Linked DNA regions of Homo sapiens: all the other regions are linked to region 2. Evidence: fine-mapped expression QTL. A gene starts in region 2. Each other region holds a variant in brackets. All regions are shown on one strand. Distances are from middle to middle.

Region 1 (5,675 bases), 45 kb before region 2:
TCTCACCCGAGATCTCACCCCACCCACTGTCATCTCACCCCACCCGCTGTCATCTCACCCCACCCACCGTCATCTCACCCCACCCACTGTCATCTCACCCCACCGAGATCTCACCCCACCCACCGTCATCTCTCCCCACCCACTGTCATCTCACCCCACCCACTGAGATCTCACCCAAGTATAATCTTGCAGCACCGCTTTTCTTTCTAATGTCTTGACAAGCAGGTGAGAAGATGCTGAGTGTTCTTGGTCCATTGCTGTGGCTACAAAGGCTGGTTCTAGTGTCTCACTGGCTGTCTCCTGCTCAAGCATGGTTTTAGCAGTTCCCTTCTTATCCCGGGCCATACTAGACCTACTGTCTTCCCTGGCTTGCACTATGCTATGGTTTGAATGTTTGTCTCCTTCCTCATGTTGAAATTTAACCCCCAATGTGGCAGTATTGGGAGGTGGGGCCTTTAAGAGGTGATTATGTCATATGTCCCCTTCCCTCATGAGTAGATTACTCCATTCAGCGAGTAATGGGCTAATGGATGTTCTTGGGAGTAGGACTTGTGGCTCTATAACAAGGAGAGAGAACTGAGCTTGCACACTCAGCCCCTCATCTTGTGATGCCCTGGGCTGCCTTGGGACTTTGCAGAAAGTCCCTGCTAGCATGAAGGCCCTCACCAGATGCAGCCTCTCAACCTTGGACTTCCCAGCCTTCAGGACTGTAAGAAATAAATCTTGTTTCTTTATTAATTACCCAGTTTCAGGTATTCTGTTATAAGCCACAGTAAATGGACTAAGACAGGCTGTGGTAACAAACTACCATTAAATGGGTGGCTTAAATAACAGATTTATTTCTTAGAGTTCTAGGGTCTGGGGAGTCCAAGATCAAGGTGCTGGTAGATCCCCTGTCTGATACGAGCTCACTTCCAGGTTTGTAGATAGCCACCTTCTCATTGTGTCCTACATGGCAGACAGCAGACAGAGGAGGAGCAAACTCCACTGTCTCTTCGTATAAGGGCACTAATCCCATTCATGAGGGCCACACCCTCATGACCTAATTACATCCCAAAGGCCCACCTCTGAATATCCTTGTGTTGAAGGTTAGGAATTCAACACATGAATTTGGGGGAGACAAACGTTTAGTCCATAACACCTATAACAACCAAGACACAGCTACCAGCCACATGTGGCTACTGAGCCAGTATGAATTGGGATGGGCTATAAAATGCAAAATATACACTGAAATGTAATGATTCTGTATAAAGGCTGGGTACAGTGGCTTAGGCCTATAATCCCAACAATTTGGGAGGCTGAGGTGGGAAGATCCCTTGAGACCAGCCTGGGCAACATAGGAAGACCCCATTTCTAGAAAAAAATTTCCCAGTCTGGGCAACATAGAGAGAACTTGTCTCTGTAGAAATTTTTAAAAATTAGCCAGGCATGGTGCAGGCACCTGTAGTCCCATCTACCCAGGAGGCTGAGGTGGAAGGATACCCTGAGCCTGGGAGGTCGAGGCTTCAGTAAGCTATGATCATGCCACTGCACTCCAGCCTGGGTTACAGAGTGAGCCTCTTCTCAATTTAAAAAAAAAAAAAAAAAAAAAAGATTTAGTAGGAAAAAAGGATGAAGGCAAAATATCTCATTAATAAGTTTTATTTTGATGGCATGTTGCGATGATAATATTTTGAGCATATCTTGGACTACATTAAATATATTACTAAAATCAATGTCATCTTTTTCTTTTTACTTTTGAAATGTGGGCACTAAGAATTTTTTAACACCTACGTGGTTCGCACTTGTGGCTCACATGACATCCCTATTGGGCAGAGCTAGTCCAGAGGATTCTGAGCCTTTGGCGCCAGTGCTTGGATCATCTGAGTTGTAGGCGCCCTCCCCTCATGCGTGCACAAGCAGTGAAGATCTTGATCTCACTCTTGGGTCGATGAGTTAAATGTGTGTGATACTACAGAGGGAGGCAGGCAGCCCAGGTGTTGCAGGGCTGTGAGTGGAAGCTTCGGGGGCATCTGCTTCTCTGTCTTGCAGGTCTTCAAGTGATTGTCCGGGAAAGTCTGGGGAGAGGTGGGGATACTGCAGTTGCAAACCCCAGTGCTGGAGGTGGGGCCTGGTGGGAGGTGACTGGATCTTGGGGCGGTTTCTCATGGTTTAACACCACCCACCTTGGTGCTCCTGCTTGGCCTCAGCCATAAGTCAAAGATCCCCAAGGCCTCCCCAGAGGCAGATGCTGCCATGCTTCCTGTATAGCCTGTGGAACCACGAGCCAATGACACCTGCTTCCTTTATAAATTACCCAGTCTCAGGTATTTCTTTATAGCAGTGCAAGAACGGACTACAGCACTCCAGTGCCGGCCTCTCTCCAAGGGCAGCTCCACTTCCAGCCTCCACTCTTGGGTCATCTGGGACCTGTGGACATTCACCCCAAGCGAAGCCAAGAGTCCCCTTTGGGATGAATAAATCCAATGGCTGACCAGGTGGTGACCTCCAGGCCTGGCAAAGCTGCCTCCCACGAAGCCCTATCTCCATATTGAGGATTGCAATTCCACATGAGATTTGGGCGGAGACAAAGATCCAAACCATATCATGGGTCAGAAACCTGAGTATGGAACAGGACGTGGCCAGTGAGGGCCGGTGGGGGGCAGCATGGAGAGTCACACTGGTGAGAACTCATCAAGGTCTGTCCACTGGGTCTGAGCAACACCCCCTGACCTGCCTGCCCCACCCCAAGCCAAGACGCCAACTGGAGGCTGCATCCCCTCCACTGCTGGCTGCAGTGTTGAAGATTGGGAGGCTCTCCCTCTTCCGCAGGCATAGAATTTCAAATTGACACAGACTGCAGTGGAACCGCTGACCCAGCACTAACCTCACCCATCCCAGCCCCTCGGCAGGCCTGCCAGCGGGTAGCTTCCTGCCCCAGTCACCCCTGCAGGACACCAGCTCTCCATTCCTCTGGCACCCGTGTCAACCTCTCGTTCCCACAGTGGCTGCCTTGGCTCATGCCTTCACATGTTTCTCCCTTGCACTCTCCCAGGCCCCTGACCCATCTCTGCACCTCTCAGCTCTCCTGCCGCTGCACCTGCCCACATTCCCGAGTCAGAGCCCCCTGCTGCGCACCGCCACCTGGGCAGCCTCTCAACAGGAGAGTTTAACCGACACCCAGCTCTGGGTGCACTCCTCAGCAGAGCCACCCTTGGCTCCCAGAATGCCCACCCTGTGACCCCTCTTCGGCTGGACTGCAAGGAGTCTCTGTGCCAACAAGGAAAAGGCGCCCCTGCTGGCTGCAGGACATGGGCTGTGGAGGGAAGTGTCTGACCCAGACAGTGCCCAGTTGTAATTATCTCATAACCCGCAGTCTTTACTTGTCTGACTTCCTTTTTAGACCATGGGAACTGCCAGGGCAGATCCCTAGACGCTCAATAAATGCATCTTTA[T/C]TTAGAATGCACAGGTGCAGTTATCCAGCGGGCGCAGTGGAAGTGGGGATGCAGGAGGTGCCTGTGAATGGGCAGCCGGGGAGATTCTAATGTGGGCAGAGAGCGGAGAGGACCTGGGAAGGAAGGGAGGGGCCGCGGCACTGGGAGTCACAGGCCAGGCTGTCGCTTTGAGGGTCTGCACAGAGGGCAGGACCAGAGGAGACCACCCTGGGACTGCACAGAGCCGGCTTGAGGGTCCAGCCCCTTAAAGACAATCCTCTAGAGGCTGCAGAGTTTCCTCGAGCTGCCATAACAAAGCTCACAGGCTGTGTCCCCCAGCCACCCTTCACCCGCCGATTCCTGTGTTGAAGCCCTAACCCCCAGTACCTCAGAATGTGGCTGCATTTGGAGACTGGGCCTTTAAAAAGGTGATTGAGTTAAATTGAGGCCCTTAGGTTGGCCCTAATCCAACCCGGCTGACATCCTTTAAAAAAAAAAAAAAAAAGAGGTGATTCAGACACACAAAGAGCCACCAGGGATGTGTGAGTGCATAAAAATAGAGCATGTGAGGGTGCAGCGAGCAGGCGGCCGCCTGCAGACCAAGGAGAGAGGCCTCCAGAGAAATCAGCTCTGCCGGCATCTTTGTCTCAGACTTCTGACCTCCAGAACCGTGAGAGGACACATTTCTGTGGTTGAAGCCCTGCGTCTGTGAGATTTGTTACAGCAGCCCTTGCTGGCTAATATCATGGCTTGGACTAGACACGACCCCTTCACAGTTTTGGAGGTCAGAAGTCTGAGACCACGGTGCAGGCAGGGCTGTGCTCCCTCTGAGGGCGCTAGGAAGGGCCTGTTCCTGGCCTCCCTCAGAGCTTCTGCTGGTTCCTTGGCTTGGGGCAGCAGAACTCCAATCCACACGTGGCCCTCTCCCTGTGTGCGTGTCTGTGTCCAAATTTCCCCTTTTGGATAAAGACATCGGTCAGGTGGACTAGGACCCACCCTAATGACCACATCTTCACTTCAATACATCTGCAATGACCCTGTATCCAAATAAGTTCACATTCTGAGACGCTGGGAGTTACGACTCCAACACATGGATTTTGGCAGACACAATTCAACCTGTTACAGACTGGATTTCTCAGAGAAATTCCGGTGCTGAATCACTGGCCTCCAATGCGACCACATTCGAAGATAGGGCCATCAGGGAGGTAGCTAAGGTTATGAGGCCACGAGGGTGGGCCCTCAAGCCAATAGGGTTGGAGTCCTTATACCAAGAGGAAAGACACCAGAGACCACCCCCTCTCTAAGTGTGCACAGGGAAGAGGCCATGGGAGGATGCCGTGAGAAGGTGACACCCGCCGGCCAGGAAGAGAGGCCTTCCCAGAAACCAACCCCACGAGCGCCCTGATGTGGACTTCCAGCCTCCAAAACTGTGAGAAACAAGTTTCTGCTGTTTAAGCCACCCAGTCTGTGGCACTTCTTATGGCAGCCTAAGCAGAAGAAAATGCCACCCAGAGCCTTATCTATTAAATCGTTTGGTTGCAAATGACAGAAACTTAAATTAAACCACTTTAACCAGAGGAAAATTTCTAGCTGGGCATGGTGGCTCACACCTGTAATCCCAGCACTCTGGGAGGCCGAGGTGGGCAGATCCCTTGAGCTCAGGAGTTCGAGACCAGCTTTGGCAACATGGTGAAACCCCTGTCTGTACAAAAAATACCAAAAAATAGCTTGGTGTGCTGGCACATGCCTATAGTCTCAGCTACTCGGGAGGCTGAGGTAAGGGGATTGCTTGAGCCTTGGAGGTTGAGGCTGGAGCCAAGATTGTGGCAGAGTGAGACCTTGTGTCAATAAAAAGGAAAGGAAAGGAGAGGGGAGGAGAGGGGAGGAGAGGGGAGAGGAGGAGAGGGGAGGGGAGGGAAGGGGAAGGGAGGGGAGGAGGGGGAGGGCAGGGGAGCAGGGAAGGAGAAGGAAGGGGAAGGGAGGGGAGGAGAAGGGAGGGGAGGGGAGGGACCTAAGGAGGCATGTCACCTGAATGTCACGTGGAGTCCTGAGTAGAATCGTGGAACAGGAAGACGACATTAGGGAAAAACTAAGGGAATCTGAATAAAAGGTGGATTTAATATGTCAAAAATGGTGCTATAATGGTGACAAATGTACCATATGCTGTGAGGGGAGGGGAGGGGAGGGGAGGGGAGTAGGAAGGATTCTTAGCTCAAGAACTGAATAGGCCAAGCATAGATCTGGGCGCAGCAGTCTCCAGGG
Region 2 (5,675 bases):
CACACACACACACACCCACATAATGGCTTTATATCCTATCTCAATAGCTTGTCCTGAATCCCTTCTTTTGGGAGCAGGAGCTATATCTATCTTTAGCGTTCCTGTAAATACCACAGCACCTAAGACACTGCATGAAACCCAGTGTGTTCTACGGGTAGTCGGTAACTAACTGTCCTTAAAGATGGTCCTCCCTAATGTGGGCAAATGAAGCCAGTCCAATGGCCAGTGACGTACACATGCAGTTGTACAGGTAATGGTGTTGAGTCAGATTTCTCTGGTTGCTATGGTTTCAAGGTCACTGGATGTTAATCAGGCAGCTTTGCTTGTACCCTGTCCCTATGCTTTCCCTAAAACTCTAAACTGACCTGAGAAACCTCTAACCTGACATGCAACTAGTCCTCTATGCTATATTTCCAGTTGCCATCTTGGACACCTCTACCTACATTTTGCGGACACAGCAACGTGTCCCAAACTGGAATCTTGTTCCCTTGCAAACCTGCCCTCCACTTGCATCCCTTCCTCATCATTCACTGTGTTGCCCAAACTACAAGCATGAGCATTCGCTTTTTATCCTCGATTCTGGCTCTCTGTCGCGTCGGCGATCCTTCCCCCCGTTGCTGTGGAGATGCCTCCCTGGCACGCACCTGAACCATAGCTGGATGCTGATTGCTCTTTCTGCCTCCTGCTTTTACTTCCACCCTCACCTCCTCCACACTCCTGCCACCGATGTCTTCTAAAATGCAAATGTGAGTACATCACTCCCCACTTCAGTATCTGTCAGTGACCCTGAAATGCATTCAAAAAGAAGTACAATATCTTGGCAAGGTCTACCAGTCTTAATTCAGCGTCGCTGTTCCTTCAGTCTCATCTCCGGCCATAACAAAACGTCCTGTGCAGTGCTCTGTCATGCTTCCAAGCCTGACCCCCCTCACCCCAGTCCTGTAGACTTGTCACATGTCATGTCCTTCTGATTGCTGGTTTTTTCTATTTCCATGCAAGCATGTGAACTGCTTGAGGACAAGGGTAGTGCCTTGTTCACCATGAAATTTCTGGCATCATGCTTTGCACATAGTAGTTATCCAACAAATGTGGGTCGAATGAATGAATTGTATGCAACACCGGATCAGGAGATATGATACAAGGATTTGGGTGGCAAAGGATTGTCTCAGAGATGCCTCTAAGCCTCCCTAAGAGTTCATGGCCATAAACCAATAGTTTCAGAGCTACTCCTTTTTGATATGGATATATCCTGGACTTATTAAATTGACAGCACATATTTTATTTTTAAAATGTTATTAAGTTAACTAGGGGCATCGCTCTATCCTCAAAATTGTTTTGGAGACACCATTAACCCACTTAAATTATTAATAAAAAAGCCACTTATTCCGCACAAATAGTTGAGACTGTCCTGCTTACCTACAGATATTCGTCTAAGAGCCGGCAGACATTCAGATACCCGCAGACAGAACTTACTTTCTGGACCTCCCACAACATTCCTCCCTTTAGATCTTTTTTTTCTTACCCCGTCTTTCAGCTTTCTCATTGCAGAACTGCTGAGAATAATGGAAAATGCTTTGCCTGGAAACTTCCAAGAACAAAACTCCGGGGGCTAAGAGAACGCGATGATTTTTAAGCTGCCAGTTAAGATGCAGCTCCTTCATCATCACAGGTGAAGCACCAATGCCTCTCGCACGTGAAATCCGTACGCTCCTAGAGTCTTACTACCTAATGCATTTCTGCAATCTGGGACGCCTGTCCTTAGCGTCTTCAATAGTTTTGGGCACGAGGTGGACCGCGGAAGTATTGTATTGAAAAGTTAACGTTTTTCCCTTGGACACCCTCTCCTCACAGCTATTAACAAGCTGAGAGAAATCAGGTGACTCCCAGTCATGCAGAGGTTTCCTCACCATTTATGATCAAGCCAAATTAAAGAATAAAAATAAAATCCTATTGGCGCAGCGGCCACCAAGTCTTTGAGGCCTCGCCTCGGTGGGCGGGGCCGACGCCGGAGGAGAGGGGCTGCGCATGTGGGCGTGACCTCGCGGAAGGAGCTGCGGAGGGCGGGGCCGACTGGAGAGGGGCGGGGCTGTCGGGTGGGTGGGACCTCGCGGCAAAAGCTGCGGAGGGCGGGACCAACCAGGAAAGGACGGGACTGTCGGGTAGGCGGGACCTTGCGGGAGAAACTGCGGAGGGCGGGACCAACCAGGGAGGGGCGGGCTGTCGGATGGGCGGGACCTCGCGGGAGGAGCTGCGGAAAGCTGAGCTGGTGAGGGGAGGGGCTGGTCGAGGGGAGGGGCTGGTCGAGGGGAGGGGCTGGCCGAGGGAAGGGGCCGGCCGAGGGGAGGGGCCGGTCGAGGGGAGGGGCCGGTCAAGGGGAGGGCCCGGCCAAGGGGAGGGGCCGGTCGAGGGGAGGGGCCGGTCGAGGAGAGGGGTTGGTCGAGGGGAAGGGCTGGCCGAGGGGAGGGGCTGGCCGAGGGAAGAGGAGGGGAGGGGACGGGCTGGTCGAGGGGAGGGGAGGGGAGGGCAGGGGACGGGCTGGTCGAGAGAAGGGGAGGGCAGGGGACGGGGTGGTCGAGGGGAGGGGACGGAGGGGAGGGGAGTGGAGGGAGAGGAGGGAAGGGGAGGGGAGGGAAGGGAGGGGAGGCGGGGCCCAGCGGTGTCCCGCGAAACTGCCGCTCGCTCGGTTCCCGGGCCTCCCCGTGCGCCTCAGTGCAAAGCGTGCCAGGCACTCTTGACTGCAACGAGAGCCGCGGCGGTGAGGGGGCAAGGCCAAGAGGCCACGGTTCGCGTTTCGCCGGCTGCAGAAGTTGTTGCCATACATTTCAAATGTGCATTTCCTACGTCTCACGCTCTGTCTTGCGCCTCCACAGCGGGCCACGGCCCTGTCACCGCAGTCGCAGCCACATGCTCCCTCCCCTGAGTCGGCTCAGCTCTGCTCAGCGGTCAGCCCCGCGCCAGGAGGCCGCGGCCTGCCTGAGGCCGGCTCGCAGCGACTCGGGACGGAGGGCGGGGGCGTGAACGGGTCGCGCGGAGAGGGTGGGGGGAGCGGGGAGCGTTAGGGTACGTGGGGGCGCGTCGACCAATGGCAGGGCGCTGTTGAGTGCAGCGGGGCGGGGCCGGGCGCGGGGGTGGGGCGAGCGGCGGGCGGGGCGGGGCGGCCGGCCGGGGGGTGGGAGGAGAGGGGCGGGGCGGGCCGGCCGGGGGAGGGGCGGAGAGACGCCGCCGCTGCCGCCGCCGCCGCCGCCGCCGCCGCCGTGGCTGCCGCAGCCTCTGGGAGTCTGGAAAAGGGGAAGCGAGAGCAAGCGAAAGACTCAGTCCCCGGGCGGCGGCGGCGGCGGCGGCCGCGGGGGCGCGACGGCCGGGGCGGGGGCGCTGCTGCTGCGGGGGCAGGCGGCGGCAGGGGCGGCGGCGGCGGCGGCGGCCCGCTCCAGCCATGCCGAATAAAAACAAGAAGGAGAAAGTGAGTCCGGGCCCGGCCGCGGGACGGAGGGAGCAGGGAGGGACTGCCGGGGGAGGGCGCGACGGCACCGGGGTCCTGCGCCCGGGCCCCGGCTCAGTTCCCCGCCTGACGCCGCGGGCTTCGCGTCCCCGAGGGCGGCCGAGCCAGGCATCCCCGGGCTTCTCTCGGCCTCATGCCCGGTGGGGGCGGGGAGCCCGGGGATCGCGCCGGAGCCGCGGGGCGCAGGCCCGGGCCGCTGGGACCTTCGTGATGGGCCGGGGCTGGGCGTGGAGGGAGGGCGCGGCCCGGGGAGGGGGTCGGAGGGGCGCCCGTTTCCGACAGCGCGCCGTGGGCTTGGGCGGGCAGGTGCGGCCGCCGAGGGGGTTCGCAGCCTCGCAGGCTCCCGGAAAGGAGCTTCAGGGATGGGGGCTGTAGACGCCTGGGGAGGGACCCCTGTACGGGGGAAAGGGAGCGAGAAGGGACCCCGCTGAGAGCTGGTAAGGAATTCTCTGCCGCCCCGGAGGGACGCTCTGGGGCTCTCGAACACTATTATTATCCTGGGTGGCGGCGGCGGTGAGGGCTGCGAGCAAGGGTGCTGCGTTTGCATTCGGGGGGGCGGGTATGTTTCTGCTTCAGGTGGAGCTCTGTAGCGTTTCATTATCACCCCAGAAATCCTCACTCATAGGGTTTAGGGTGGGAGGGTAGAAAGGGATGTGATGTGGATCTCAAAATGCCAGAAGCACTGTATAAAATTGGATTTATCTGTTTTCTGCTTGAAGTTTTCAACCTCAAATGCAGATAAAACGAAAAGAATCTGAATGGGGGTTGGGGGGCATTGCACTGTTGGAATCCTAAACGGTATGATATAGAATTTCCTAATGGTATGAATTAAAAATATCAGAAGCTGTAGTTGTATAAATCACTTTTAAAACTGCATTTGGCTTATCTGATGTTTACCTGTCTAAAAAGTGAGAAGACTAATTGACTTTGCTTGATGTTTACCAGGAATCACCAAAAGCAGGGAAGAGTGGAAAAAGTTCAAAAGAAGGACAAGACACAGTAGAATCAGAGGTAACTGTCATCAAATATTGACTTTGTATTTTATACACAGCTTTTAACTTCAGGTAGAAAAACCGAGAGTGATAAAGCCTAGAATCTTCTAAAATGTTTCCCTATGTGAGGTTTTTTTTTTGTGGTGTCTTTTATAACCCTCAATTTTAGTTGTTTAGGTATTTACTGTTTTGCTTTGGAAAACTATTAATGATTTTATGAAAATTGTGCTTGCCTATGGGGTTTGTTTGTGGGTCTTTTGGGGTTTTTTTTGTTTTTTATTTTTTTGAGACGGGGTCTCACTTTGTCACGCAGGCTGGAGTGCAGTGGCGCAATCTCTGCTCACTGCTACCCCTTGCCGCCCAGGCTCAAGTGATCCTCTTACCTCAGCCTCCCAAGTAGCTGGGACCACAGGAACATGCCACCACACCCAACAAATTTTTTTTTTTTTTTAATAGAGTCTCACTCTGTCACCCAGGCTGGAGTGCAGTGGCGCGATCTTGGCTCACTGCAACCTCTGCCTCCCGAGTTCAAGCAATTCTCCTGCCTCAGCCTCCTGAGTAGCTGGGATTACAGGCACCCGCTACCACGCCCGGCTAATTTTTGTATTTTTATTAGAGACGGGGTTTCACCAGGTTGGTCAGGCCGGTCTTGAACTCCTGTCCTCGTGACCCGCCCACCTTGGCCTCCTAAGGTGCTGGGATTACAGGCCTGAGCCACCGTGCCCATCCTGGATCTGGTATTTTTAAGTTCATTTCCCACACCTCAAACCCAGCAACCCTCCTGTATAGATTGGTCTTATGCAGTCTATGGTGTTGCTATGTTGCTTTTAGCTTTAGGGTCATCTCCCCACCGCCACTTCCATTGCAAGCTGCCAGGCAACTCAGTGGTTAGTTCTTTTTCTTCCATCACCTTGTTTTCCTTCAAACCACCTCTGCTACTGACGTCCTGGGCTAGCTCCCTATTTCTGTTGACGGTCCCTTGGCCTCTTTCTCCAATAATGTTGGTATTTGAAAAAATTTACCTAGTTTTGGTATTTTATTATTGTTCACATTGTGTGTGTGTGTGTGTGTGTGTGTGGGCGCGCGCACTTGCGCGTCGGCCACTTGTAAATTTCTTTGCTTCTTGGCTTTGGCCTCATTGAGGAACAGCTGGAATGCCAAGTGAGCATTGCATCTACTTGACC
Region 3 (5,302 bases), 150 kb after region 2:
TTAACAGCAAGGACAGCCACCTGATGTCTCAGGCACAACCTCCAGCAAGCCATCCACTTGTGTCTTTCAGGTGGCAGAGCGAGCTCTCTATTACTGGAATAATGAATACATCATGAGTTTAATCAGTGACAACGCAGCGAAGATTCTGCCCATCATGTTTCCTTCCTTGTACCGCAACTCAAAGACCCATTGGAACAAGTAAGAAAGAACTGGCTGCCATCTTTTTCAGTCATTTTAAAATATGGCACGTTTTACTGCTACTTCAGTAAGAATAAATATCAGAATTTTAAATATCAATTAAAAAACAAGAAGGTCAGTTGCTTTGTGGACTCATAAATTAAGTAGCAGCGTGGGTTGTTTCTGTGGCCGTTGAATTTACCACCTTATACCTTCATTCCTGCCAGTATAGAGGCACATTGGTTTGCAGCCACCTCCCAGTAGCAGCAGTTTCTAGGCCTCTTCCTGAGCGTCCTGCAGAGAAGCTGAAGGTCTCTGCAGAGCCCAGTGGGGCTCAGCCCCGGCGGGGGCACAGTGGCCACTGCATTCTCGGGGTGTCTATTGAGCTCTGCTGACATGCACCCTGGATGAGCCCCTGTGTGAGACCCAAGAACCACCCCACAGTGGTCACTACCTGGAGAAGAAGAGGGAAGCCAGGTGATCTGAACACAGCCCCATAGTCCCAGCAGCCAAAAACATTTCCTCCTACTCCGCTCCTTCATCTTTTGACTTAAAGAGGATGAATAAATCCGTTTACTGAGCAATAGTCTTCTGAGACTTTAAAAGGAAACTGTTGATATGGGTGCCACATTATTTATTTATTTTTCTTTTTTAAAATTTGTATTTTATTTGTTTATTTTTAGACAGGGTCTTGCTATGTCCCCCCGGCTGGAGTGTAGTGTCACGATCATGGCTCACTTCAGCCTCGACCTCCTGGGCTCAAGCAAACCTCCTGCCTCAGGGTCCTGAGTAGCTGGGACTACAGGCACCCACCGCTACGCCTGGCTAATTTTTGTATTTTTTGTAGAGATGGGGTTTTGCCATGTTGCCCAGGCTGGTCTCGAACTCCTGGACTCAAGTATTCCACCTGCCTCAGCCTCCCAAAGTGCTGGGACGACGTGAGCCACTGCGCCCAGGCCATATTATTTATTAATATGGTATCATCTAATATTCCTGCTATTTAAAGAAATACGACTGAGTTTTTCTTTCCCCACCTTCTTTCATCTCTTTCCATTGTATATTGTAATTATAACTCAGAACTTAAAGAAGAGCAGGTTATGCTATCCAGCCCTCCTCCCTTAGTTTATGGGTGAGGAAGGTGAGACTTGGAGGGCATTCGCAGCCCAGTCTGCGGTCCCAAAGCTGGTGAGCGGCACTCTGGCCCGGTGCGGTCTCCTAACTCGCAGTGTCTATTGGGCACCCCTCTGGCTGTGCTGCACAGTCACCCTGCTGCCGGCGGACCAGCCCTCTCCCATGCACCCTCTCTCCTTGTCCGCTCGAGGCTGCAGGTGGCACTGCCTCCTTCCCAGAATTCTGCAGGGCAGCAGCCAGACAGGTGTTAGCCCTGGAGCTCTGAGCCAGACCCCCGAGCGAGCGTCCAGCCAGTCCACTCGCGTCAAGTCTTCTGAGGGTTGCCGCCCAGAAATTCAACAGAGAAGGGCAGGCAGATCAGAGTGAGGATGACTTTGGTTCACATTCCTGCCTTCCTCCTGAGCAGCTGTCTGAACCCGGGGAAGTTAGCTCTCACCAGGTCTTTCTTAGCCACAGTTTCTCTTTGGAAAAACTGAGAAAGTAAAGTGCTTTGCCTTGCAACAATCTTCACTTGGTTGTGAGGATTAAGATAAAGTTAATATGCGTAAAGTACCTGGCTTATGATAGGCACCAAGTAAGCATTTGCTGTCACTTAGTGGTTGTAGGGCCAGCAGCCATGCTGATAGCAGTGGAGGCAGCAGCCAAGACCCTCATGGCAATAGCGTGGTGGTTGTAGTTGTTAATACAGCACATCCACCCTCAACAACCTGTTCTTTGTAGCATTGATTTATTTTATTTATTTATTTATTTTTGAGATGGAGTCTTGCTCTGTCACCCAGACTGGAGTGCAGTGGCACCATCCTGGCTCACTGCAGCCTCCACCTCCCAGGTTCAAGTGATTCTCCCACCTCAGCCTCCCAAGTAGCTGGGACTACAGACATGAGCCACCACTCCTGGCTAATTTTTGCATTTGTAGTAGAGATGGGGTTTCACCATGTTGGCCAGGCTGGTCTTGAACTCCTGACCTGAAGTGACCCACCCGCCTCAGCCTCCCACGGTGCCGGGACTACAGGTGTGAGCCACCGCGCCTGGCTTGCATTGATTTTTTTTTTTTTAATCGCAACAATGACAACAAAGCCCCTGGAGTGTCGCCATGTTTCTTGTGTGTAATTTAGTTTAGTATGTAAGTCAGCACAATTCATAACTGACTTCCAATCCCCGCCCATTGCAAAGAAAAAAATGTTCTTTTAAGTGTTTTCTAAGTACAACTTGGGTTTTATTACAAAGTGGATTAAGAAGGAATTATGATTTGAGGGTTACGTTTTTTGGGATTTATTTGTTTTTAGCTACTGGCACCTGTTGCTCACAGTCCTGCGGGTCGAGCAGGTCCTGCTGCGCAGGCTTTCGCTGGTGTCTGCTGGGGGATCGGGGCTCTTACAGGGCTGCAGTCCCATGGCAGCTGGGACTAGAGTCACCCAGAGGCTCAGCTGGAACAATTTGGCCTCTTTCCCTCTCCATGCGTGTCAGAGCCTGAGAGCTAAGCATTGATTAAGCTGTTTTATGCTCATTTTATTTTCTCTTTCAAAGCTCTGTGTTGCCATTATTAAAATTAATTTTTCTGTCCTCAGGGAATAAGATGAAAAGAAACTGACATTTATAGGAAATCAAGTATTGCCATTATTGTCCTCTTTATAATTTTGTCTTAACTATATTTGTTCAAGTTTCAATGTTTTTAATTCAG[T/C]TTCTGAGCAAGGTCGTTTTTGGCTACTGTCAGCTGGAGACAGTGAGTGGAGTGGCCTCTGTGGCTATGTGAGAGCCACTGTGAAGAAAGTCTCGGGATGTGTGGCTGTCAGAAAACAAGTAACGCGGAATGAGCAGGCCTTGCATTTTAGACCTTAGGGATCCTGTGCGATGTGGGACTGTTGGAATATGGAGCAGCCTGAGAGTGGAGAGGCGAGGGCTCAGCAGGAATGCGTGCTCCCAGGCTCACCGTGCGGTTTTCTTTATAGGACAATACATGGCTTGATATACAACGCCCTGAAGCTCTTCATGGAGATGAACCAAAAGCTATTTGATGACTGTACACAACAGTTCAAAGCAGAGAAACTAAAGTGAGTTGTTCCTTTCACAAGTTACTGTTTCCAGGATTTTTTTCTTAATCCTAAGTAAACCTCTTCCACTGTTTTGTCCTAAAACGGTATTCTTCACTCGAAAGCAAAACCAAGCCTTTCATACTTGGAAAGCAAATTAAAACTGTGTTATAATAACGTATTTTGAAAGAACAGGTGTTTAAAGGTAGCTATTCTCCCCCCTTGTATTGCCAGATTAATCATCTTTGCAAAAAGTGCTTATGTAAGCAAGAATTTAACATTCAGAATTTTTTCTTTTCTTGGGCTATAATGGGCTTAAAGGCTATAATGTGTAGTCCATTTTCATGTTTATAAGGCAGGGATTTGAATTATATCCTATAAGGTTTATCCCAGAGAGCAAGAATCTTCATTTCAATGTAGCTTTATTCTGATTTAATGAACTCAGCGATGTGGGTGTTCTCTGGAATCTAGTCTGTCCTTTGCAAAATCAGGGTCCTGCCCTCGTGCCTTTGAGCCCACATGTGTCCAGGGATGATCTAAGTGACAAAGTACTTCGTCCCTAGGCTGTGCAAGTAATAATGTGATTAAATAGTTGTTGGAGGTCACTTCTTCCAAGTTGAGTATGGACTATTGGCAGATTTTATTTTTTGCTTGTCACTTAAAACTGGCTAAGGTAGATAAGCTTTGCACGAATGTAATTCAAAATACACTGTATACATATGTGTGTATCTATGTGTGTGTGTGTGTGTGTATATATATGAAACAACTGCCATTTAGTCATTCCTTAGACAAATATGTGAATATTTACCTTATACACCAGGCCCTGTTTTAGATTCTGGCAATATAGCAATGAATAAAACCCACAAAAATCCTTGCCCCTGGGCCGGGTGCGGTGGCTCACGCCTGTAATCCCAGCACTTTGGGAGGCCAAGGCGGGTGGATCACAAGGTCAGGAGATTGAGACCATGCTGGCTAACACGGTGAAACCCCATCTCTACTAAAAAATACCAAAAAAGGGCCAGGCGTGGTGGCTCATGCCTGTAATCCCAGCGCTTTGGGAGGCCGATGCAGGCAGATCACGAGGTCAGGAGATCGAGACCATCCTGGCTAACACAATGAAACCCCGTCTCTACTAAAAATACAAAAAAAAAGGCCGGGCATGGTGGCTCATGCCTGTAATCCCAGCACTTTGGGAGGCCAAAGCAGGCAGATCACCTGAGGTCAGGAGTTCGAGACAAGCCTGGCGAACACAGTGAAACCCCGTCTCTACTGAAAATACAAAAAATTAGCCGGGCGTGGTGGCAGGCGCCTGTGGTCCCAGCTACTCAGAGTCTGAGGCAGGAGAATGGTGTGAACCTGGGAGGCGGAGCTTGCAGTGAGCTGAGCTCACACCACTGCACTCCAGCCTGGGAGACAGAGAGAGACTCCGTCTCAAAAAAAAAAAAAATACAAAAAAAAATCAGCCGGGTGTGGTGGCGGGTGCCTGTAGTCCCAGCTACTCGGGCTGAGGCAGGAGGATGGCGTGAACCTGGAGGCGGAGCTTGCAGTGAGCCAAGATCACGCCACTGCACTCCAGCCTGGGCGACAGAGCGAGACTCCGTCTCAAAAAAAAAATCCTTGCCCTTTTGGGGTTTATATTCTGGGTAGTGTGGGGAAATAAAAGAACACAAAATACACCTAAGTGAACTATAGAGCATGAGAGATGACAAGTCAGTCAGGAAAGGGCCGGGGAGACAGACCAGCCATTCCTCTAGAGCTGCCAGCTGCATGGTCTGTTCTCATCTCAGCTCTCAGTGCAGTTCGCAGGTAGGAAGCATGCAAGCAGCAGGGCCTTCTGATGGCAGATCCTCCTCTCGTGGAATCCCACAGCTTTCCCAACAGGACCTTAAAGGTTGTGTAGTACATTTTCTGGGTTGAAAAACTTGGATCCTGGCCGGGCGCAGTGGCTCACACCTGTAATCCCA

Direction of the effects. Alleles are on the strand shown, and positions count from the first base shown. SD is a standard deviation of normalised expression in the study named. Not every link is listed here.
For the expression in thyroid of the gene that starts at base 3,249 in region 2, C is the low allele of the variant in region 1 and T is the other (small effect, 0.17 SD a copy in GTEx).

The links. PIP is the estimated chance that this variant, and not a neighbour inherited with it, causes the effect.
Region 1: its variant is the best candidate, but not a certain one, in a credible set for the expression of PPP2R5C in thyroid (GTEx, PIP 0.56).
Region 3: its variant is the best candidate, but not a certain one, in a credible set for the expression of PPP2R5C in whole blood (TOPMed, PIP 0.82).

Annotation. Positions count from the first base shown.
Region 1 is chr14:101,713,588-101,719,262 of GRCh38, forward strand. The region is part of intron 1 of LINC02320 (long intergenic non-protein coding RNA 2320); the gene reads right to left. Among named protein-coding and RNA genes, the nearest start is that of LINC00239, 14 kb to the right of the region's middle. RefSeq lists a silencer at 4,857-5,062. The variant T/C (reference allele first, on the strand shown) is at 3,435.
Region 2 is chr14:101,758,461-101,764,135 of GRCh38, forward strand. PPP2R5C (protein phosphatase 2 regulatory subunit B'gamma) reads left to right here and starts at 3,249. Exons shown (of 16, transcript NM_001352913.2): 1 at 3,249-3,460; 2 at 4,445-4,510. The coding sequence starts at 3,434. It overlaps LOC107984658 (a long non-coding RNA gene), which reads left to right and starts at 5,619. Exons shown (of 2, transcript XR_001750901.1): 1 at 5,619-5,675. RefSeq lists silencers at 2,095-2,204, 2,275-2,424, 2,485-2,534, 2,995-3,154, 3,165-3,404 and 2 more.
Region 3 is chr14:101,906,332-101,911,633 of GRCh38, forward strand. It overlaps PPP2R5C (protein phosphatase 2 regulatory subunit B'gamma), which reads left to right. Exons shown (of 16, transcript NM_001352913.2): 12 at 71-198; 13 at 3,258-3,359. Among named protein-coding and RNA genes, the nearest start is that of DYNC1H1, 56 kb to the right of the region's middle. The variant T/C (reference allele first, on the strand shown) is at 2,990.